2 separate regions of the Homo sapiens genome follow, and region 1 is linked to region 2. Evidence: fine-mapped QTL for protein levels in blood plasma. Region 2 holds a variant in brackets. A gene starts in the other region. All regions are shown on their reverse strands. Region 1 holds the start of LPO (lactoperoxidase). Region 2 overlaps LOC107987435 (a long non-coding RNA gene).

What was found. PIP is the posterior inclusion probability: the model's chance that the variant is causal. Protein levels are from antibody-based Olink assays in UK Biobank. Linkage for the fine-mapping came from a reference panel and not from the study's own genotypes, which makes the PIPs less certain.
Region 1: it holds the start of LPO, and the variant in region 2 is fine-mapped to the plasma level of the LPO protein (UK Biobank, PIP above 0.99).

Annotation. Positions count from the first base shown.
Region 1 is chr17:58,237,502-58,245,501 of GRCh38, reverse strand. It overlaps LPO (lactoperoxidase), which reads right to left and starts at 6,918. Exons shown (of 13, transcript NM_006151.3): 1 at 6,763-6,918; 2 at 2,447-2,524; 3 at 1,421-1,508. The coding sequence starts at 2,522. It overlaps LOC124904038 (a long non-coding RNA gene), which reads left to right. Exons shown (of 3, transcript XR_007065862.1): 2 at 210-333; 3 at 987-3,824.
Region 2 is chr12:11,205,622-11,221,773 of GRCh38, reverse strand. The region is part of intron 1 of LOC107987435 (a long non-coding RNA gene); the gene reads right to left. Among named protein-coding and RNA genes, the nearest start is that of TAS2R42, 27 kb to the right of the region's middle. The variant T/C (reference allele first, on the strand shown) is at 8,820.

The DNA.
Region 1 (8,000 bases), not on the chromosome of region 2:
GGAGTGGGCCCGATGCTCCCAGGCAGAGAGGGTTAGAGCTGGGAGCCACTGGCCAGAGAATTTTCCAGATCACAGAGTTGGCAGCAGAATCTCTCTCTGAAACCAGGAAAGCACCCAAGGGGAGAGAGAGAGAGAGAGCTTCCGGCCCCTTGAGGACTGAACTGTTCAGGGGATGTAGACTCACCACCCCTTTTTCCCTCCTCCTTCAGCTTAACCCCCAAGGAGCAGAAACCCAAGCTGGGAAGGAGGAGCCCCAGAAAGAGGGAGAAGGAGACTGCACTCTCTTCTCCCGCCAGAGGCCTCAAGCAGTTCTGAGCTGAAGGAATAGAGCAGGTCTGGCTTTATCTTCTTATGCTGACACTTTAATTCCTGAGATAATCCTGGTCTGGGGACTAGAAGCGTCCAGAGCGTGTTTTATCATCTAAGTCACCAAAAAAGTTATCTGACGGCTTGAAAGTTCATTCAAGGGCTGAGGAGGAGTGAGTGGAAGCCCAGGTCCAGTGTAAAGGGACAGCGAGAGGAAAGAATAAGGTTACTTTTTTTCTCAATGTCTGCCCTCTCCCTAGAGTGTGCGTTTCCTGAGGGAAGGCGCCCACGTTGCCCCTGTACAGGATCGGAGGGCAGTTGACTCTACTGGTGCCCTGTGGGCCCTGGGCTCTTCCCCTTGCTGCCATGGGTGCATCTGCTACAGGCTCACTCCAGTAACCTTGTTGGGCGCCTGCTTCTGAGCCACTGGAGTGGCCTGGCTGGGGGTGCCCGGGAATTCCACAGGTGTGCCACAACACCTCTCAGCCACCTGCAAGCCTGCAGCCATGTCTGACTGATGTGGGCAGATGAGGGCTCTGCTCCCTCGCTCCAAGATGGGACAGGCTCTGAGGAGCAACTTCTGCTCCAGGTCTCCCTGTGGGGTCAGGCTGAGGATAGACTTGAAGCCACTTTATTTGTCTAACCTCCCCCTTCACTTCTGCTTCTTCACCCCATCACAGCTTCCTTGTGAGCATTCCCCTAATATGTCACCTGCACCTGAATGCAGGGCTCGGATTCGGCTTCTGGTGGACCTGGCTGAATCAGTCAATATCAGCTGGATGAATGAAGAACTTTTACTGAGAGGCTTTCTGGGACTCTGGAATGCATGGCCCAAGGAAACATTGGGCCACGTGGAAGAAAGTCCTTCTAGGGTTAGATTAGATGTCCTCTTTCAGGTGATGTACAGGCTGAGGACTTTAGGAATTGTGGGCTATTGCTCCTACTTGTCATGTACTTGGAGGGCTAGGAGGATGGAAGGGTAAGTTTTATCATTGTTCACCTCATTGGCTCATCCGGGCTGGCCTAGATGTGCTTGTCATGAACAGGAAGCCTGTGAAGGGAAGTGTGTGTGTGTGTGTGTGTGTGTGTGTGTGTGTGTGTGTGTCTCACGTACCTGGTTCGGGAGTCCAGGAAGGCCTTGTTGACTTGGACCTTGGCCTGACTCACAGTATCGGAGATGGCAGAGGTTCTGGTAGTCTGCGCTTGGGGTTGGAGTGGGGAGCAGGAAGTAGGGTGTCAGACACCACTCCTTTGCGATGTCTTCTGCTTTTGTCTCCCTCTTTCTCGGCCATTACCCCCACCCCTCAAATCTGGGTAGGCAGGAGATCAAGATTAGGAAAGTTTCATAAGAGTCCTTAAGGGGAAAAAGCACAGAATGGGAAGAATACTCTTGGATCTTCAACAAGATGTCAAAATTGCTCTTTGAGATCTCACTAGAATGCCCAGAGATGGGATGAAGAGGGAGTGTGGCCACTCAGGGTGGCTTGGGCTACTGGACTGTGGGGATTTCTCTGGTTCCTGGTGAGATGGTCTTGTGGACTATCTCAAGTTCATCAAAGAGGACCCACTGATCACCAGGACCCTGACGTACAGAAGGGGATGGCATGAGAGTAATGGTGGGATTCCCTGTTCCCTCTTGTATTGGGGTCTGGAGCATGGAGGACAGGATCTGTTTTCTCAACAAGGAGAGTGTAGTGGGTTAAATAATGGCCCTCCCAAAATTCACATCTGCATGGAACCTCAGAATGTGACCTTATTTGGAAGTAGGGTCTTTGTAGATGTTATGAATTAAAATGAGGTCATACTGCCTTAGCATCGGCCCTAAATCCAATAAATGGTGGTTTTATGAGAAGAGGAGAGGACACCCAGTGAAAAAGGCCACGCAAAGACTGAGGCAGAGATTGGAGTGTTGCAGCTACAAGCCAGGGAACACCAAGGATACCAGGGCCACCAGAAGCTGGAAGAAGAAAGGAAGCATTCTTCCCTAGAGCCTTCAGAGGGAGCACAGCCCTGCCAACACCTTGATTTTGGACTTCTATCCTCCCGTACTGTGAGAGAATACATTTCTGTTGTCTTAGGCCATCCAGTTGGTGTGCTTTGTGACAGCAGCCCCAGAAAACCCGTAAAGGGAGACACTCACCTCTTGTGGTAGATGCTGCAGCCTGAAGCAAGATGAGGGAAGCCAGGAGGGCTGGGAGATGGAGAAGGACCCTCATCACTGAAACGAGATGCAGGATCACACTGTGAGCCTCTCTAGAGACCAAGTGGGAGGGTTTGAACCACAGAAAGCAGAGAAAGCCAAAGGAGCACCAGACACCCTAATATTGGAACAGGAAAGGAGAAACCACATTAACGAATGAAGCATCTACCATACACACAGGCCTGTGCTAGGTACTGGGAGAGATGGAAAGAGGAGAAGACATGGTGGAAGGGAAAGAACTCAGGCTTCAGGATCTAAGGCCCTGAGTTATCATTCTGCATTTGCTCCAATAGCTCTGTGACCTTGGGCAGGTTACTTAACATCTCTGGGGTCCTGGCTTGCTATGGGAGGAGGTGGGACCAAGTGATCCAGAATGTTCAATTCTGCCCTGACAGCCTGTGGTCGGGAGATGCTGTACCTGTCTTGTCACAGGTGTGAGAAACGCTGTTACCAAGGCTGGAGCCTGCCTTTGAGTTCCCCTCCCTCCTTCCCTGCAGGATGCATTGCTCCCTGCAAGCCAGTTTCCTCTGGCCCAGCCCCAGGAGAGAATGCCTGAGAGGCAGACACTCAGCGCCTCCCTTCGGAAACCTGGCAGGGGCTTCCCCTTCCCTCAAAGTGCCAACTTGATGGCAATACTGAAAGAAAGTTATGACAAAGCTCAGAGCTCCCCTGAGCCCACAGCTGTGCCCCAGGCTGCCTGGAAAGATTCCAGCTCATGGATTAACCTCTTTGCCATGAGCTTTAACTCTGAATGCAAATCTTTAGACTGAAATTTGTGAAGCTTTGTTTTCTGATGAGGGTCTTCACTGGGCTTAGTGGAGCAGACCCCATACATCTTCTGAGGAGATTCTGGCTCCAGCCCGGGGTGGCAGCCACAGCGTGCAGATGGAATGATTGTGTGTTTAGACCATGGTCCTGAGAGGCTCCTCAGCTTTCACAAGGGCGCCTGTGCTCTCCCTGCAGCACGGCGTTCACTGGTGGAATCCAGAAGCACACTAAGGAGAGCAGCCTCAGGTTGCCCCCCAGCCATGTCTCCCCAGGGCTCAGCTCCCAGAGAGAAATCATAGTTCTGGAGCTTTGCCTGACAGACTTCCCCGTATGTCTTGCAGACCCTCTCCAAATCATCTCCCTTTGGAATAGGCCAGACCAGGAGACCTCTGTATATGGATCAGGTCATTTCAGCCTCCTTCACCCCTGCCTGCCTCCAATTTTTCCCTCTGCCCTTTCGTGGTCCCCCTAATAATTTGTATCTTGTTGTACTTTTTGCCAGCTAACTCTAGAGAAGGGGCAAGGCATGAATAAATACCTCTCTGGCCAAGATTCTCTCTGTTACTTCCCCCCACCCCAAGATGAGTTCTCAAACAGCTTGACCTCTCAGTGGGCTCTTGTCCTTATAGTTGTATGGCCCCAAGGAGGAAGAGATTCTGTGACCTCCTATCCCTCTGTCACCATATTTTGCAACTTCAGGGGACCCATTGCAGGGTTCATTGAGTTAGCAGAAATCTGCCCTTCAGACAAACAGAGATGATGGTTTTGGAGGAAAAGGTATCATTGACTTTAAAAAACAAACTATGGTAAAAAACATGGCCAGGTGTGGTGGCTCATGCCTGTAATCCCAGAATTTTGGGAGGCTGAGGCAGGCGGATCACTTGAGGTCAGGGGTTGGAGACCAGCCTGGTCAATGTGGTAAAACCCTGTCTCTACTAGAAATACAAGAATTAGCCAGGCGTGGTGGCAGACACCGGCAATTCCAGCTACTCGGGAGACTGAGGCAGGAGAATCCCTTGAACCTGGGAGGTGGAGGCTGCAGTGAGCCAAGATTGCGCCACTGCACTCCAGCCTGGCTCAAAAAAAAAAAAAAAAAAAAAAAGAAAAAAGAAAAGAAAAGAACAACAACAACAAAAATCCACATAGCATAAAATTTAGCATCCTAGTCATTTAAACTCTACAGTACTGTAATGTTAGGTATATTCACATGTTGCACAATGGATCTCTAGAACATTTTCATCCTGTAAAAACTGAAACCCTATACCCATTGAACACCAACTCCCTATTTCCCCTTCCCCCTAGCTCCTGGCAACCACCATATCACTGATTTTTTTAAAGAGGGCTGTGGGCACAAACATTCATTATATTGTTCTTTGAATGACTAATGCGTTTCCTAATAAATGACAAACACAAAGTAAAAAATTAGTCCATTTTTTAAAAAGACATCATCTGAGACAGCCTGAGGAAGACAAAATCATAGAAGAAGACATGAAAGTTGAGAAATTTGAACAGGAAACAATACTTAAATATTCAATTCTCCTCTCCTCTTCTTTAGGACCCCCTTCATGCTCTCCTCACTGGAAAGTGGAGGAGGGGGACTTCAAGGCCAGAGAGAAATTATTTTCCCATGTCTTGGGCAATGTTCCTGGTGGGTGTGAGGGACGGGTATGAACAAAAATCAGAGCCAGGTGAATACAAGGTCATGTCACTGAAAAGGGGGTGTGCAGAAAGATTCTAGAGGGACACTGTCTTCAGCCAGAACCACACAGGGCAAGAGGGCCTGGGGCTTTAGAGTGTAAGAGGCCAACAAGAGGCTCCTGTGATGTGTAGATATTTATCCATATTCTTATCAACATGCTGAGTGCAGAAACCATTTCCCAAGCCCTTTGATTTGCAGCAAAGCCTGGAGCCTTCCCTGGGACATGAAGCACTATCTGGAGACAGAGCCACAGCCTTTGCCCCTCAAATGCCAGGCTGGTCCACAATCCCATGCCTCTACTCATGCTCTTCCCTATACAATACCCTCTCTGGCTAATAAACTCCTATTCATTCTTCAAAACCCAGACCAAATTTCACCTCCTCTGTGAAGTTTACCAGTTTTCTCCAGGAAAAGTTAGATCGTTCCTTTTTCTGTCCTCCCACAGTATTTCATCCATATCTCATATTACTGTCTTCACATCTGTTTCCCCTATCAGACCATGAACTCCTCAAGGGCTCCATCTTATTTATTTGTTTTCCCAGGACCTAAGCATGTCAATACATAATAGGTGTTGGGTGCATGCTGAATGAATAAAACTCCTAGAGCAGAGAAATTCAGCATCTGGAGGTTGCAGAGGGAGAGGGCAGAGATAGTCCCTCGGCAAGCCTCTCACACTGTAATGTGCCTACTATCACCTAGGGATTTTGGTAAATGCAGATTCTGACTCAGAAGGTCATAGAAGGGGCCTGAAAGTCTGCATTTCCAGTAAGCTCCAGGTGATGATGATGTTGCTGGTCTGCAGACCACACTCTGAGTACCAAGGCCTTCCAGACTTTGGTTCTCAATGTCGCTGAGCAGTCACCAAGGAGATAGGGGGAAGGCCTGAGAAGGGATGAAGTCAGTGAGATTCTCTTCCATGATTGTAAAGAGCCCTGTGGAGGGTGGTGGAGTGAGCCAATAGGAAAGCCATAATTCTTGCCCCATCACCTGCAGGAACACTCTCTTGATCTTTTGAGTGACTCCAAGATCAGGATGAGAATGAAGAGATAGCTCTTATCAAGCCCTCTAGAGCGGAAATAATCTACTTCAACTGAAAGATTTGAGGCACACAATTGCATAAAAAACAAATATAATTTAACCACCCCATTCCCCCAAAATGAAGCCTGCCTACTACCGCTGCATACAGGTCACACACCTGCTTGAGAGCCAGGTGTCCACAGGGCACTTAAGACAGCTAGGACTAGACATTGAGGGCAAACTAGATGGTCGGATCTGCTGCAGATGGCAGGCATGAGATGCTGGAAATGAGATGAAGACCTGACAGCTCCGGCTTAGGGAACCCCTTAAAACACTGCAAAATCTCCACTATAGTGGAGAGGCCAGATTTCATCACACTGTCTCAAGAACAGCACAGGGAGCACCATTCTGTCACTGTTTTCCCCCAAATTCCTGTGTGACTCTGGACACATTAAATTGCTTAAGTCTCAGTTCCTAAACAAGGTGGATAAGAGAGGTCTATGGTACCTTCCAGCCCTAAGAGTTTATGATTCTCTGACATAGTTTTCAGACACAGAAAAGCCTTTTTCCCCCACAGTGGTGGGGGGAGGCTTAATTACATTCTCTCTTATACCAAACAAGAGGAGTGTGCCATGGGGTGGCTAAAGCTGGCACCAGAAAGTGCCTGATAGAGACAAGTCTAAATCCAGTGTTAAGCTTTCTGAGAAGACGTTAGGAAATTTCATCATCAACTTTGCAGAAACCAGGAAAGATGAAAGTTGACGAGTCTTACCTGCCCAGTGCCTTGTCTTTTCACGGCAGCCAGGGAGTTGCTCTGCTTGGAGGAGCTGGTCTTTTATACCTTCCAGCAAGAATTCACTTCTGGGAAAGGCCCAGAAGGAAAGATTTTGATGTGGCTTGGAGGAGACGCTGAGGCTTAGCAGGAAAGACTGTGTGACTCCGGGCAGATACACCAGGAAACTGCAGAATGGCAGGGATTGGTTGATGCAATAGCACTGACTGTGGGTGAAGCAACTCCTCTTTCCATTTTCTAGCTTAAATGCATGATCCTGATCTAGTTCCGGAAGGCAAAAACTGCATGCCCTGAGCACATTTGTCCCTTTTAAGCTCCTAATGGGATCCGAATAGCTCTTAGAATTATGAACAATTATTAGGTTGGTGCAAAAGTATTGCAAAAACCGCAATTACTTTTGCACCTAGCTAAATGGTTCTCCTCCCCATTCATATATTCACTGCCCTTTGATCCCTCCCTTACATTCCACCCAATTTACTGTGGAATCCAGTGGATTCATCTTTTGGATTTAAAGTGATCAATAAACATTAATTTTTTTGGTCAAAATTTCAAAATACTTTTGGCCACCAAAGGGTGAGAAGAGCCCTAAGCTTTCATAGTGGGTTGCAGTCCCTGCCTCTGCCATTGTATGGCTCTAGGCAAGTCACTTCACCTTCTGGTGTCTCAAATTTTCTAGTATTGAAATCAATGGTTGGTTTTGGTGATTATTATGATTCTATGACTTCATGCCTTCTATAGGGTGACCCATTTAAAAAACTCCAGAATCTGGGAGGCCAAGGTGGGTGGATCACTTGAGGTCAGGAGTTGGAGACCAGCCCAGCCAACATGGTGAAACCCTGTCTCTACTAAAAACACAAAAATTAACCAGGCATGGAGGTGCATACCTGTAATCCCAGCTACCTGGGAGGCTGAGGTGGGAGAATCACTTGAACCTGGGAGGCAGGGGTTGCAGTGAGCCAAGATCATGCCATTGCACTCCAGCCTGGGTGACAGGACGAGACTCTGTCTCAACAAAACGAAACAAAACAAAACCACCACTATCGTATAAATTATTGACCTAAAGCTCAAGCATAATGTTACATACCTTTCCTACCTCAATGACTTTGGAAATTCAAGTTCATTAGATTCATACAAGAAGGAAAAAGGAAGATTCCGAGAAAACAAAATTTCATGAAAGTATATTTTACAGACAGACAATTTAAAACATAATAAGCCTC
Region 2 (16,152 bases):
TATCATCAGCAAACAGTGACAGTTTGTGTTGTTCTTTACCAATCTGGATGCCCTTTATTTCTTTCTCTTGTCTAATTGCTCTGGCTAAAACTTCCAGTACTATATTGAATAAAAGTGGTGAAAGTGGGTATCCTTGTCTTGTTCCAGTTCTCAGAGAGAATGCTTTCAATTTTTCCTCATTCAGTATTAACTTGGTTGTGGGTTTGTCATAGATGGCTTTTACTACATTGAGGTACGATCCTTGTATGCTGATTTTTCTGAGTTTTATTCATAAAATGATTTTGTCAAATGCCTTTTCTGTATCTATCAAGATGATCTTTCGATTTTGTTTTTAATTCTGTTTGTGTGGTGTATTACATATTGACTTGTGTAAGTTAAACCATCCCTGCATCCCTGGTATGAAACCACTTGATCATGGTGGGTTATCTTTTTGATATGTTGTTGGATTTAGTTAGCTAGTATTTTGTTAAGGATTTTAGCATCTATGTTTTCATTTTTGGTTATGTCCTTTCCTAGTATTAGGATGATACTGGCTTCAGAGAATAATTTAGGGAAAATTACCTCTTTCTTTATCTTGTAGAATAATATCAATAGAATTGGTACCAATTCTTCTTTGAATGTCTGGTAGAATTCTGCTGTGAATCTGTCTGGTCCTGGACTTTTTTTGTTGTCGGTAATTTTGAAACTACCATTTCAATCTTGCTTCTTGTTATTGGTCTGTTCAGGGTATCTAATTCTTCCTGATTTAAGCTAGGAGGGTTGTATGTTTCCAGGAATTTATTCATCTCCTCTAAGTTTCCTAGTTTATGTGCATAAAGGTGTTATAGTAGCCCTAAATGATCTTTTGTATTTCTGTGGTGTCAGTTGTAATATCTCTTGTTTTGTTTCTTAGTGAGGTTATTTGGATTTTCTCTCTTCTTGTCTTGGTTAATCTTGTGAATGGTCTATCAATTTTATTTATCTTTTCAAAGAACCAGCTTTTTGTTTCTTTTATCTTTTTTTTTTTGGTTTCAATTTGATATAGTTCTGCTCTGATCTTGGTTATTTCCTTTCTTCTGCTGGGTTTGGATTTGGTTTGTTCTTGTTTCTCTAGTTCCTTGTGGTGTGACCTTAGATTGTTTAGAAAGACTTAGAAAGTTTTCCAGACTTTTTGATGTAGGCATTCAGGGCTATGAACTTTCCTCTTAGCAACACCTTTGCTGTATCCCAGAGGTTTCGATAGGTTGTGTCACTACTGTCATTCATTTTGAAGAATTTTTAACTTACATCTTGATTTCATTGTTGACCCAATGATCATTCTGGAGCAGGTTATTTAATTTCCACATAATTGCGTGGTTTTGAAGGTTCCCTTTGGAGTTGATTTCCAGTTTTATTCCACTCTGGTCTGACAGAGTATTTGATATAATTTCAATTTTCTTAAATTTATTGAGACTTGTTTTGTGGCCTATCATATGGTTTATCTTGGAGAAAGTTCCATGCACTGTTGAATAGAACGTATACTCTGAGGTTGTTGGGTAGAATGTTCTGTAAATATCTGTTAAGTCTATTTATTCCAGGGTATAGTTTAAATCCATTGTTTCTTTCTGTGACTTTCTTTTAAATCCATTGAGACTTTCTGTTTTGATGACTTGTCTAGTGCCCTCAGGGCAGTATTGAAGTCCCCCACTATTATTGTGTTGCTGTCTATCCCATTTCTTAGGTCTAATAGTACTTGTTTTATAAATTTGGGAGCTCCAGAGTTAGGTGCATACATATTCAGGATTGCCATATTTTCCTGTTGGGCAAGGCCTTTTATCCCTCTTTGTCTTTTTAAACTGCTGTTGCTTTAAAGTTTGTTTTGTCTGATAAAAGAATAGCTACTACTGCTTGCTTTTGGCATCCATTTGCATGGAATGTCTTCTTCCACCTCTTTACCTTAAGTTTATGTGAGTCCTTATGTGTTAGATGTGTCTCTTGAAGGCAGCAGATAATTGATTGGTGAATTCCTATCCATTCTGCATCTTTTAAGTGGAACATTTAGACCATTTACATTCAATATTAGTTTTGAGATGTGAGGAACTGTTTAATTTATCATGCTAATTTTTTTTAGTTGTATTTTTGTTTTATAGGTCCTGTGAAATTTATGCTTTAAAGAGGTTCTGTTTTGATGTGTTCAGGATTCATTTCAAGATTTAGAGCTTCTTTTATCAGTTCTTGTAGTGCTGGCTTTGTAGTGGTGACTCACTCGGCATTTGTTTGTCTGAAAAAGACTGTATCTTTCCTTCATTTATGAAGGTTAGTTTGGCTGGCTACAAAATTCTTGGCTGATATTGTTTTGTTTTAGGGGGCTGAAGATAGAGACCTAATCCCTTCTAGCTTGCAGGGTTTCTGCTGAGAAATCTGCTGTTAATCTGATAGATTTCCCTTTGTATCTTTCCTTCATTTATGAAGGTTAGTTTTGCTGGGTACAAAATTATTTGCTGATAATTGTTTTGTTTAAGGAGGTTGAAGATAGGGCCCTAAGCCCTTCTAGTATGTAGGGTTTCTGCTGAGAAACCTGCTGTTAATCTGATAGGTTTTCCTTTACAGGTTACCTGATGCTTTTCCCTTGAGGTTTTCCTTTATAGGTTACCTGATGCTTTTCCCTTGTGGCTCTTAAGATTCTTTCCTTTGTGTTAACTTTAGATAACCTGATGACAATGTGCCTAGGCAATGATCTTTTTATGATGAATTTCCCAAGTATTCTTTGAGCTTCTTGTATTTGGATATCTAGGTCTCTAGCAAGGCCAGTGGAGTTTTCCTCATTTATTCCCCCAAATACGTTTTCCAAACTTTTAGATTTCTCTTCCTCCTCAGGAACACCAGTTACTCTTAGGTTTGGTCATTTAATGTAATCCAAATCTTTTTGGAGTCTTTGTTCATTTTTTCTTTGTCTTTGTTGGATTGGGTTAATTTAAAAACTTTATCTTTGAGGTTGAGGTTTTTTCTTCTGCCTGTTCAATTCTATTGCTGAGACTTTCCAGAGTATTTTGCATTTCTCAAAGTGCATCCACTATTTCTTGAAGTTTTGATTGTTTTTTTATTTATGCTATATATTTCACTGAAGATGTCTCTTCTCATTTCTTGTATCATTTTTTGATTTCCTTAAATTGAACTTCACCTTTCTATGATGCCTTCTTGATTAGGTTAATAGCTGACCTTTTGAATTCTTTTTCAGGTAAATCACGGATTTCTTTTTTGTTTGGATCCATTGCTGGTGAACTAGTGTGATTATTTGGGGGTGTTAAAGAACTTTGTTTTGTCATATTACCAGAATTGTTTTTCTAGTTCCTTCTCATTTGGGTAGACTATGTCAAAGGGAAAGTCTAGGGCTCAAGGCTGTTGTTCAGATTCTTTTGCCCATGGGGTGTTCCCTTGACATAGCACTTTCCCCTTTTCCTAGGGATGTGGCTTCCTGAGAGCTGAGCTGTAGTGATTGTTATTGTTCTTCTGGATCTAACCACCCAGCAGGTCTACCAGGCTCCGGGCTGGTACCTGGGGTTGTTTGCACAGAGTCATGTAATGTGAATCATAGACCATGTGCTTTAAAACAATGTTCTCAATTTATTAAAATTATTTTCCTTCTACAGTGATAGCTTGTTTTTCTAAATTTAGTATCCCTGAGAATATAATTTTAATAAGAAAAAAATTGTGTCTCTTTTTATGTCTGCTTTCTGGGGCTGGAGGTGGATTTGTTTTTGAGTAAGTCCTGTAAGTGATGCATGTTTCCTCATGTGCTTGGTAAAACTTAGTGTTGATGAGGGGTGTCCACACTAAATGGTATTGATAGCTGGAGCATGTATTCTCAGGCAAGAAGAGAAATCCTGTTTGCCTGTAAGTGAATATATTTCCTAATAGTAAAATTTCCTTTAAATGTGTTTGTAATGCAATATTTTTAAAAAACCTGTTATCGCTGGTGACAGAGCAGGAGTATTGCCATCTTGGACAAGCACTGTCATTTTAAGTTCACCTTGATCAAAAACTGCCTAAATCCAAAGGTCATCAGCCTTCTGGCTAAGGTCAGCATGACCATAAACCACAAATAATATCTCTGACCAAAAAAATTCCAAACCTCTCCCCTACCAGAGGCATGCCAGACCCGAGATAATCTCCCCTCCACCCAGAGACAGTCTGACCCCAACATAAACTTCTCCCCCACACAGAAACATTTCAAGCTTGTGATAAACCCCCTCACTCTAAAACCAATGTATACTCTGTTGCTGCTTCTGAATCCTATAACCCCAAAGGGCCTAGCAAGGCCAACATCTCTGCCATTGGCTCCTCAAAACTCTGTCTTCCTCTGCTTTTGAATGTTCCAGTTTGAGAGTAAAATTTAGGTTGAAGACATCTCCCCAACCTGTCTCCTGCTGGTGAGATATTCCTCTACAGTTTAAAGCCCCCTCACGAATGCCCACTCATTTCATTTTATTTTTGTACTTAAATAAAATCAACTTTATATGTATTTTTTAAAATATTTTAATATTTTCAGCTTTATTAGGGTATAAGTGATAAATAGAAATTGTATATATTTAGGGTGTGCAACTTCCTATTTTGATTTATGTATACATTGTGAAATGCTCACCATAATCTAGCTAGTTAACATAGCCATCGCTTCACATAGTGACCTTTTTTTTGTATATGTGTGGTGAGAACACTCAAGATCTGTCCTTTTGGCAATTTCAAGTATTCAATACAATATTTTAAATTATGGTCTCCATGCTGTACTCGCCTACTCATTTTAGGCATGGTCAGGTGATATATAAACTCAAACTATTTCTAAATGTGATCTATTTCCTTTTCTACCATCTTATGGGTAACTATTTGTTGGAATATAATGCCTTCAAATTCCTTTAATATTCCATTTGCTTTCACGTTCTCAGGTGGTTTTTTTTAAATACTTTCTTTAAATATGTTTATGGAGTTCTCCACAGTGAGAGATAGGAAGTTGATAAATTCTAGTTCTAATAAAAGAGGCTTTATTCAAACATATTTTGTCCAACTTTTCCCCACTGTGGGTAATGCCACTTAGGAATTATTCTATCAGAACAGCATCTGACCTAAACCTTGACCTCATATATTACTCCTGCCCCTTGCTAGCCTTAGTAGATCTCATTTTCATTGTTTCTTTTCTATGAGAGCTGACTCTTCAAATATCTTGATTATGTTTCTCTCTCACACTGGAAATACCTGCATCTTTACCTACAACATATATGTGAATCTGAAAATCACGTAATACTATTTCGGCTAATTTTCCTGGTTTTCTCTTCTCAAATATGTGCCCACTTTATATAACTAGTTCCTGGGGAGGGGTCTCTTCTGTTAGTTTTCTGTTATTTGTTTACTTTTTTGGATGTTAGTAGTCACCCTTTCCAATCTAGAAACAAAAACCTCTCTTTTTCAGTTTCTTCTTTCTGAGTAATTAGATGCAGATTCCTTTGATGTGTGCCTAGCCCGGCCTCCAGATTCTCATTTTTCCTGACATTGCTCTCTAGTAAATTCCTCAACCTTTCTCCTAAGAAAGTCTTTCTTCCACAACAGTAACCAGGCCTTCTTGTTTTCCCTTTATTCTCCCATGACTTCCATTCTTATAGTTACATTGAAGAGTACCAAAAAACAAACTAAAATAAAGCAAAAACCGAAAACCCGCCTTTTTCTCCCAGAGACAGTATTCCGAGAATGAAACTTTTTATATTTCTGATTTCCTTTTGAGTTAGTGGTAATTTAATTGAGTTGTTTCAGCCCAAGAAAATAACATACATACTGTATTTAATAAAAAACCCAATTATTTTAAGTGGGTGAAGGTATAGATGAGTAATTTAGGAGTATTAATATAATCAGTAAATTGGAGAGACCATTTGGTGAGTGTGACTCACAGTGTGACAAGGCATATGAATGTAAGAAGTTTCCTTTCATCGAGTTTCCTTCGCCCTGGAAACTGATGCAGGTTAAGTCCTAACGATGCAGGGACTAATGATTTAGGGATTAAAATCTTATGCATTGATAGTCTGTAGCCTAGCATCTAGCTGCCATCCCCCTGTTTTTATTTTCTTAAACAAGCTTTATTTTTAGAACAATTTTAAATTTATAGAAAAATTGTGGAGCTAGCACATGGAGTTCCCATGTGTCTTGCACTCAGTTTCTCCTATCCTACAATACCATGGTATATTTGTTACAATTAATGAACCAATTGTCACATTATTATTAATTAAAGTTCATATCTTATTCAGGTTCCTTTAGTCGTGCCTCATGTATTTTTCTGTCCCAGGACCCCATCCTGGACGGGGATTTATTTATTTTATTTAGATGTTGGGTCTCCTTAGGTTCCTCTTGGCTGTGACAGTTTCTCAGACTTTCCTTGCTTTTGATGACCTTGATGATTTAAAGAATACTGGTCAGGTATTTTGCAGCATGTCTCTTTGTGAAGATGTGTCTGATAATTTTCTCTTGATTAGACTGGAGTTATGGGATTTTTGATTAGAAAGACCTCAGAGGCAAAGTTAATGTGCCATTTTCATCATGTCACATCAGGAGTATATACTATCAACATAACTTGTCCCTTTCTATGTTGTCCTTCGTCACCCAGAGGAGACAGTGTTTGAAAGTCTTTTTCATTGTAAAGTTATTCTTTCCCTCCCTCTTTCCAAGTGTAAGGAGTGGAGAGTTATGTTCCACTTCCTTGAGTATTCATACAAATTCTTTAGAACTATTCTGCATGAGAGGTTCATCTCTTGTCTCTCCCCACTCCCCCCACTTTTTAATGAGCCCTTCCTCACTTTCTGGTTCTACAAGGGATTTCAGGTTCATCTTGTATATTTCCTGCCCCAGTCGTAGAATCAGCCATTTCTCTAAGGAGTCCTAGTTTCTTTTTTCAGATAGTGGCATCAGAAACCAAGATCTGGGTATGCTCATTGCTCTTGTGTGTCTTTGCTTCTAGTCCCTTAGTAACCTGTGTTTATGTACTTATACAGAAATATTTCTTTATGTAGAAATAATTGGTGTTTATATATATCCATATTAAGCTAAACTTAAGTTCATACTGACATCTCCGACTCTGATCCATTAGTACATGGATCATTCCATCTCCCCCTTGCTTATCTGCAAACTCCTGCTCCAACAGTGAGAAACTGCCTGCCATGATCTGCCATCCATTTATTAATTGTTTAATTTTGGTATACATGTGTAAAAACATCAGAATCGTTAACCAATAACTTTATGAGAAACAACTTTATTAACTATACTGCAGTACTTATGTGTAGTTTCTTTGACCTTTAGTTTTACAGACTCCACTTATTTTCAAAGTTATGTAGGCCAGCACTTTTGTCCCTACCGTCTTCAGTGAGAGTTTTTTATACTAACTGTGATACAATTAAGTTATATGGCCATTTTCACGATATTGATTCTTCCTACCCATGAGCATGGAATGTTCTTCCATTTGTTTCTATCTTCTTTTATTTCATTGAGCAGTGGTTTGTAGTTCTCTTTGAAGAGGTCCTTCACGTCCCTTGTAAGGTGGATTCCAAGGTATTTTATTCTCTTTGAAGCAATTGTGAATGGGAGTTCACTCATGATTTGGCTCTCTGTTTGTCTGTTATTGGTGTATAAGAATGCTTGTGATTTTTGTACATGGAACAAACTACTTTAAAGTTCATATGGAACCAAAAAAGAGCCCACATCACCAAGTCAATCCTAAGCCAAAAGAACAAAGTTGGAGGCATCACACTACCTGACTTCAAACTATACTACAAGGCTACAGTAACCAAAACAGCATGGTACTGGTACCAAAACAGAGCTATAGATCAATGGTACAGAACAGAGCCCTCAAAAATAATGCCACATATCTACAACTATCTGATCTTTGACAAACCTGAGAAAAACAAGCAATGGGAAAGGATTCCCTATTTAATAAATGGTGCTGGGAAAACTGGCTAGTCATATGTAGAAAGCTGAAACTGGATCCCTTCCTTACACCTTATACAAAAATCAATTCAAGATGGATTAAAGACTTAAACGTTAGACCTAAAACCATAAAAACCCTAGAAGAAAACCTAGGCATTACCATTCAGGACATAGGCATGGGCAAGGACTTCATGTCTAAAACACCAAAAGCAATGGCAACAAAAGACAAAATTGACAAATGGGATCTCATTAAACTCAAGAGCTTCTGCACAGCAAAAGAAACTACCATCAGCATGAACAGGCAACCCACAAAATGGGAGAAAATTTTCGCAACCTACTCATCTGACAAAGGGCTAATATCAAGAATCTACAATGAACTCAAACAAATTTACAAGAAAAAAACAAACAACCCCATCAAAAAGTGGGCGAAGGACATGAACAGACACTTCTCAAAAGAAGACATTTATGCAGCCAAAAACACATGAAAAAATGCTCACCATCACTGGCCATCAGAGAAATGCAAATCAAAACCACAGTGAGATATCATCTCACACCAGTTAGAATGGCAATCATTAAAAAGTCAGGAAACAACAGGTGCTGGAGAGGATGTGGAGAAATAGGAACACTTTTACACTGTTGGTGGGACTGTAAACTAGTTCAACCATTGTGGAAGTCAGTGTGGCGATTCCTCAGGGATCTAGAACTAGAAATACCATTTGACCCAGCCATCCCATTACTGGGTATATACCCAAAGGAATATAAATCATGCTGCTATAAAGACACATGCACACGTATGTTTACTGTGGCACTATTCACAATAGCGAAGACTTGGAACCAATCCAAATGTCCAACAATGATAGACTAGATTAAGAAAATGTGGCACATATACACGATGGAATACTATG[T/C]GGCCATAAAAAATGATGAGTTCATGTCCTTTGTTGGGACATGGATGAAATTGGAAATCATCATTCTCAGTAAACTATTGCAAGAACAAAAAACCAAACACCGCATATTCTCACTCATAGGTGGGAACTGAACAATGAGAACACATGGACACAGGAAGGGGAACATCACACTCTGGGGACTGTTGTGGGGTGGGGGGAGGGGGGAGGGATAGCATCGGGAGATATACCTAATGCTAGATGACAAGTTAGTGGGTGCAGCGCACCAGCATGTCGCATGTATACATATGTAACTAACCTGAACATTGTGCACATGTACCCTAAAACTTAAAGTATAATAATAAAAAATTTAAAAGGTAAAATAAAATAAAAATAAAAATAAAAATAAATAAATAATAAAGAAATTATATTGTCACATTTTGCATTTCATCCTGACATTCTCCCAAACTCTTAAATGATTTTTAAAATTTATATGGATTTTCACTCTTTGAACTGCAAAGTTCAATGCGTTTTGGCAAAGTGTCATTTGGCCACAATTACAATATTGTACAGGATATTTTCACCACCCTAAAAAATCCCTAGTGCTTCACCTATTCAACCCTCCTCTCTCCCTCCCTCCAGGAAACCACTAACCTTCTATTTTTAATCTTCTTTATAGAGTTTTGCAAACATTTTGCAAATATTTACAAGTTGATTATTAATTTATAAGGAGAACCAAAGACCTAGAATAGTCAATATAATACTGAGCAAGAATAAAAGTCGAAAGATTGGAATGACCAAAATCCAGAACACTGACAACACAAAACGCTGGTGAGGATGTGGAGCAACAAGAACTCTCCTTCATTGTTGGTGGAAATGCAACATGGTACAGCCACTTTGGAAGACAGTTTGGTGATTTTTTTATAAAACTAAACTTACTGTTACCATATGATCTAGCAATCATGGTGGAACATCATATAATTAGAATCATAGCATATGTACCCTTTCTATACTGGCTTCTTTTCACTTACAACATGCATTTAAGATTCATCCATGTTCCTTCATAGATCAATAGCTTCTTTCTTTTTCTCAGTGAATAATATTCTACTGTATGTGTACACAACAGTTTTTTAAAATTCATTTGCCTGTTGAAGGACATCTTGATTGCTTCTGGTTTTCGATGATTATAAATAAAGCTGCTATAAACTTGTGCATGTAGGTTTTTGCAGAAACATAAGTTTTTAAATCACTTGAGTGGATAGCTAGGAGTGCACGTGATGAATTACATAGTAAAACTAGGTTAAGCTTTGTAAGAAACTACCAAACTGTCTTCCAAAGTGATCCTATCATTTTGCATTCCCACCAGCAATACATGACAGTTCCTGTTTATCTGCATCCTTGCCAGTAATTAGTATTGTCAGATTTTTTTTCATTTTAGTCATTCTAATAGGCATATAGTGATATCTTATTGTTGTTTTAATTTTCAGTCCGTAATAACATACAACGTGGAACACTTTTTCATGTTTATTTGCCATCTGTATATCTTCTCTGGTTGAGGTGTCTCCTTAGATCTTTTTGCCTATTTAAAAATATTTTTGTAATAAAGACTTTATTTTTTAAAGCAGTTTTAGGTCCCTAGCAAAATTGAGATGAAAGTACAGAGATTTTCCATAGATTCCCTGTCTTCACACATGCATAGCCTCCTTCATTGTCCATATCTCCTAACAGAGTGGTATATTTGTTACATTTGATGAACCTACATTAAAACATCATTATCCCCCAGAATCCACAGTTTACATTAGGATATGCTCTTCATGTTGTACATTCTATGGATTTGAACAAACTTATAATGACATATAGCCACCATTATAGTATCGTGCAGAGTATTTTCATTGCCTTAAAAATCCTTTTGGCTTTAACTGTTCATTCTTCCTTTTCCCTAACCCCTGGCAACCACTGATCTTTTTATAGTCTTTATTGTTATAACCTTTCCAGAATGTCATAGAGTTGGAATCATACAGCCTTTTCAGATTGGCCTGTTTTACTTAGCAATAGGCATTTAGATTTACTCCATGTTTTTTCATGGCTTGATAGTGCATTTCTTCTTAGCACTGAATAGTATTCCATTGTATGAATGTACTGCAGTTTATTCATCCATTCACCTACTAAAGAACATCTTGGCTGCTTCCAAGTTTTGACAAGGATATATAAACAAACATTCATGTGCAGATTTTTGTGTGGGCATAAGTTTTTAATTCCTTTGCATAAATACCAAGGAGTGTGATTGCTAGATCATATGGTAACGGTACGTTTAGTTTTGTAAATGAAATCACCAAACTGTCTTCCAAAGTGGCTGTACCATTTTGCATTTCCACCAGCAATGAAGGAAAGTTCTTGTTGCTCCACATCCTCACCAGTGTTTGGTGTTGTCAGTGTTCTGGATTTTGATCATTCCAACCTTTCAACTTTTTTCTTCTTCAGTATTATGGTGGCTATTCTAGGTCTTTGCTTCTTCTTATAGTCTTGGCTTGTGGTCTTCCCTGAGAAATATTACAGGAGGTAAAAATCATTTCATCCATCTGAAATGGTACTCTTGTTGTGGGTTTTAATGGGACTGAAGTGCTAGTTCTCTAACATTATATACCTTTTCCAAGAGCTTTGAAATGCAAAGCTAAGTTTCAGTGAGTCAAGGTAATGCCAGCCACAGTGGTCTCACATCAGTAACAGAGGACCTCACACCAGGACCTTAGAAACCTTCCTTGTAAAGATCATAAAGTTCTCACACTAAAGCTTCAGTGGCCTTGTAGTAAGGCCATGAAGGTCTCTCACTAGAGCCACAGAGATTTCTTACCAAGTTCTAAATGTCCCCTTAGCTTTTTGGCTCATATGTGCTTCTTCACTTAGAAACCCAAGTTTTGCATTACTTCCAAGCAGGTTCTTCTAATTTCAACGAATGGAAACTGTAGAGTTTGCCTAAGAATTTGCTGTCATTTTAATAGAGTAAAAAAAAAACACAGGATTATTTCATGTTACTCTTTATGTTTTACTTATGAGCCCAAATAGTGATTAGCAGTCTGTCTGTACTAGTCTTCTGGCTTTTGATGATGGGAAAGTAAGGAGTCCAATAGGATGTTTTGTTTTATCTGATAGGTTCTTAATCTTTAAATGCAAGGTATCAATTTGTAACCACTTCTGCTCCAATGATCTCACAGAAGATAGAAATAATTATTACTTAATTCCTGGTCTTGGACCTGGGTGTTAATGACTGTTAATATAACTAATATTTGTACATAGTTTAAAAGTTTACAATCATTTTTACATAATCTATGTTTCTTAATATGTAATTTTGTGACCTAAGAATTTTATGCTCCATTTTAAGAAAACTGCCCATAAAAGCCACTAGTAAGCTGTTAAGTACTAAATGCATTTATTTATCGTAAGGGAAGAAGCTAAGGTTCAGAGAAATAGGTAGTAAAGAAGCTGTTCTCACTTCCAGGCACCACCCACTGCTTTCCATGGTATTCAACATCCTGCCCTACCCTTTTATTCTTTTCCCAAAGGAGTGAACAAAGCAAAGTGCCAGCAGACATCAAGATCTGGAGGCACAGAGTAGAAATCCAGTTCACTGACTCTGGCTTGCCTGATTGTGCAGGGATTGGTCTATTAGATCTGACACAAAGCACAATGGGAATGTGGCATTTAGGACACAGAGGGCGCCTGTTCCCCAGGTAGGAGGAAAGAATTCAATATACTCAGCTGCAAATATCAGCCTCTTAGTCAAGCATTGGGGTTTCTGTGGAAGATAAAAAAGAAAGTAATATGCAAAAGGTCTTGCTGATGCCTGAAATGTGGCATTTTACAAGTATTAGGAACCCAGATTCTGGAGCGAGAGGGTCTGTGTTTGAATCCCAGACCCAACCTTACTAGCTTTGTGACCTTGGGCAGCTTACCTAACCATTTGTGTGCTTTGGTTTTTCTTTTCTATAAAATAAGGAGTGTTATAATACTTTTTTTTTTTTTTGAGATGGAGTTCCGCTCTTGTTGCCCAGGCTGGAGTGCAATGGCACTCTCTTTGCTCACTGCAACCTCCACCTCCCAGGTTCAAGCAATTCTCCTGCCTCAGCCTCCCAAGTAGCTGGGATTACAGGTTCCTACGACCACATCTGGCTAATTTTTTTTGTATTTTTAGTAGAGATGGGGTTTCACTATGTTGGTCAGGCTGGTCTCGAATTCCTGATCTCAGGTGATCCACGCACCTGGGCCTCCCAAAGTCCTGGGATTAAAGGCGTGAACCACCCCGTGCCCGGCCTGATTGTTAGAACACATTAATTACATTACCCATAAAATAATTTAATGACTTAAATTAATCAGTATTGTAAATCACTTAGAACAGTGCCTGGCAATGCTATTTATTATTATTGTTGTTGTTATTATTCTACCATGAGAGTTGAGGATGAAGATTACTGTGCTAAGTGGAAACATTTGACTAGAAATTAAAAAAAATCAAACAATACTCTTACCCTGGGCCATGAGAGTCTTCTCTGGGTCAATTTATATAAATTAAAACATTAGTTATTCCAATAAAAAATTTCTAGTTCATTTCTACATGTACATTTTATATTTCATTGGTATTAAACTATTTGGTCTATAGGGTCAGGATGATGGAGGAAATTCAGAGATATTTTGTCTAATACCAAACCTGGAATTTTCAGTGCACGGGAGAGTTAAATAAACACATAAAGGCTTAAAAATTACGGTTGTTGAAACTGAAGCCAGTTTTTCAAACTATGGTTCTTAGTGCCAGCAGTTTCTCTTAGTTTCTCTTCTATAGCTGATTATACCAGAGGCAGGAGCTATGTTGTGACATTGTACCTCCACTGTTATTTAGGATTATATAGTGAGAAAACTGAAGCCTGCAATCACAAAATCTGTAGCGCATTGAATTCAAAAAATAGAAAATAGGAATAGAGAGACTTCTGTTGTCTTCGGAGTATATTTTGTCAGTTATACTCGCACTGTCTGGTTATACTTGCATTGACTCCTTTTAGGAAAAGGAGGTGAAAATCAGAATCCTAGCCATATGGATTTTAGACTGAGGAAGTATTATAGCAAACATTTAGTTCAGTCATGTTTAAACAACTTTTTGGTAATTTTTTAGTCCCGATATAATTTCAGAAGTACAGAAAAGTTACAACAATAGTAAGAATAACTACTCTTAGCCTGTACCCAGGTTCACTAATTGTTAAGTTTGCCCCATTTGCCATCTCATTTGTGTTCTCTCTCCCGCTCACACACACACACACACACATATACACATATATATTTTTCAAAGCATTTGGGAGTAAGTTGCAACACGATGCTCCTTTACTCCTAAATACTTGGATGTGTATATTTTGGAACAAAGACATTCTCTTATATCGTCACATGCCATGATCAAAAGCAATAGGTTTAGGTTTAACACAGGACCCACTCATTATCTAATCCACAGTCAAATGTAAATTTAGTTAATTGTCCTGATAATGCCCTTTATAGACAAATTATTTTTCCTGGTCCAGGATCCAATCTGGAGTCATGCCATGCATTTATTTGTCATGCTTCTGTGGTTTTCTTTAATCTGGATCAGTTTCTCAGCCGTCCTGTCTCTTTCATAACCTTGACATTTTTGAAGGATATGCCAGTTGTTATTTAGAGCATCTCCTGATTTTGTGTATCCCTGAGATTTCCACATGATTAGATTTAGGTTTTTCTTTTCTTTTCTTTTCTTTTTTTTGAAAAACACCACAAGAGTGATACTGTTTCTTTTTCAGTGAATCAGTATCAGAAGGTAGATGATACTGGTTTGTCTCAATATTGGTGATGTTAGCTTTGATCTCTTGGTTAATGTGGAGTTTGTCAGGTTTCTCTGCTTTAAAATTACTATTTCCGTGTTTATAATTAAAAGTAATTTGTAGGGAAAAACTTTGAGACTATGCAAATACTCTGCTTAGCATTAAAATTTCACCTATTAATTTTAGCATCCATTGATGATTCTTGTTTAAGCAAATTATTAATTACTATGATAGTTGTAAGAAACAGTTATTTTTTAACTGTATCATTTCTTCAACATTCAATAATTGGCTTTATAAAGTAGATTTCCTTTAATCATTTATTCCAGTTTGCATTTTTAGCTTCATATTTTATTTGGAGAAAATTAATTCTATAATTATTAGAATTCTATGTAATTATGGAATTCTATAGTTCATTGGTATTATGACATATTCATACTATTAATGTTCAAATTATCCTGCATTTGGCCAATGGGAGAGCTTCAAGCTGGCTCCTGAGTCTTTTTTTTTTTTTTTTTATAGTATATCCTTATTTTGCATCCCAAAAAAGAATCAAGAATTAGCTTGTGCTTTTACTGCCATAGGCCTGAAATCAGCTATTTTTCCAGGGATCCCTAGATCCTTTGGGATCTATTTAGAGTGCAGAATGCTATTTCGAAAACAGTATCTGGGAGGTAAAGGTGCTCATTATTAACTGTGATATTCTTTCTTTTAGGCAGACAGAGCTAGGAAACACATAAAATATATATATATATATATATATTTTTTTTTTTTCCTTCTCTATTAAAAACTGAATTCATACTGATAACTTCATGATATGGTCTGGCTCATCTTGAGCCAAACCCACCCAAATCTCATCTTGAATTTTAGTTCCCATAATCCTCATAAGTCTTGGGAGGGAACTGATGGGAAGTAATTGACTCATGGGGGCAGTTCCCCCCATGCAAATCTTGTGATAGTGAGTAAGTTCTCATGAGATCTGAAGTTCTCATGAGATCCATGTGAAGAAGGAAGTGTTTGCTTCCCCTCCCACCACGATTGTAAGTTTTCTGAGGTCTCCCAGTCCTGCAGAACTGTGCGTCAATTAAACCTCTCTCCTTTATAGTTTACCCAGTCTTGGGCAGTTCTTTATAGCAGTGTGAGAACAGACTAATATTCTTCAATTCCAATTCAAGACCACATGCTACTCTTGCCCTTTCTACATTTACAGTTCCCTTCAAGAAACTTGGCTTCCATTATGCTTAATATATTTACAGTCATCCCTCAGTGTCCACAGTGGATTGGTTCCATGACCCCTGTGGATACCAAAATCCTCAGATGTTCAATTAGGTTTGGCAGATGTGAGGATGTGATACTGTGAAATATGCATTTGGTCTTCCTCCCCAGTTTCCTAACATACAACTCCTAAAATCCTTGTACTCTCCAAAGTGCTTGCTTTTTTTTATACTTATATTGACTGATAACTTCAGAGTGAGGCTGGTCACCAGAATGACCAAAGACAATATTAGAGGGTTGAGACCTTCAGCCCCATC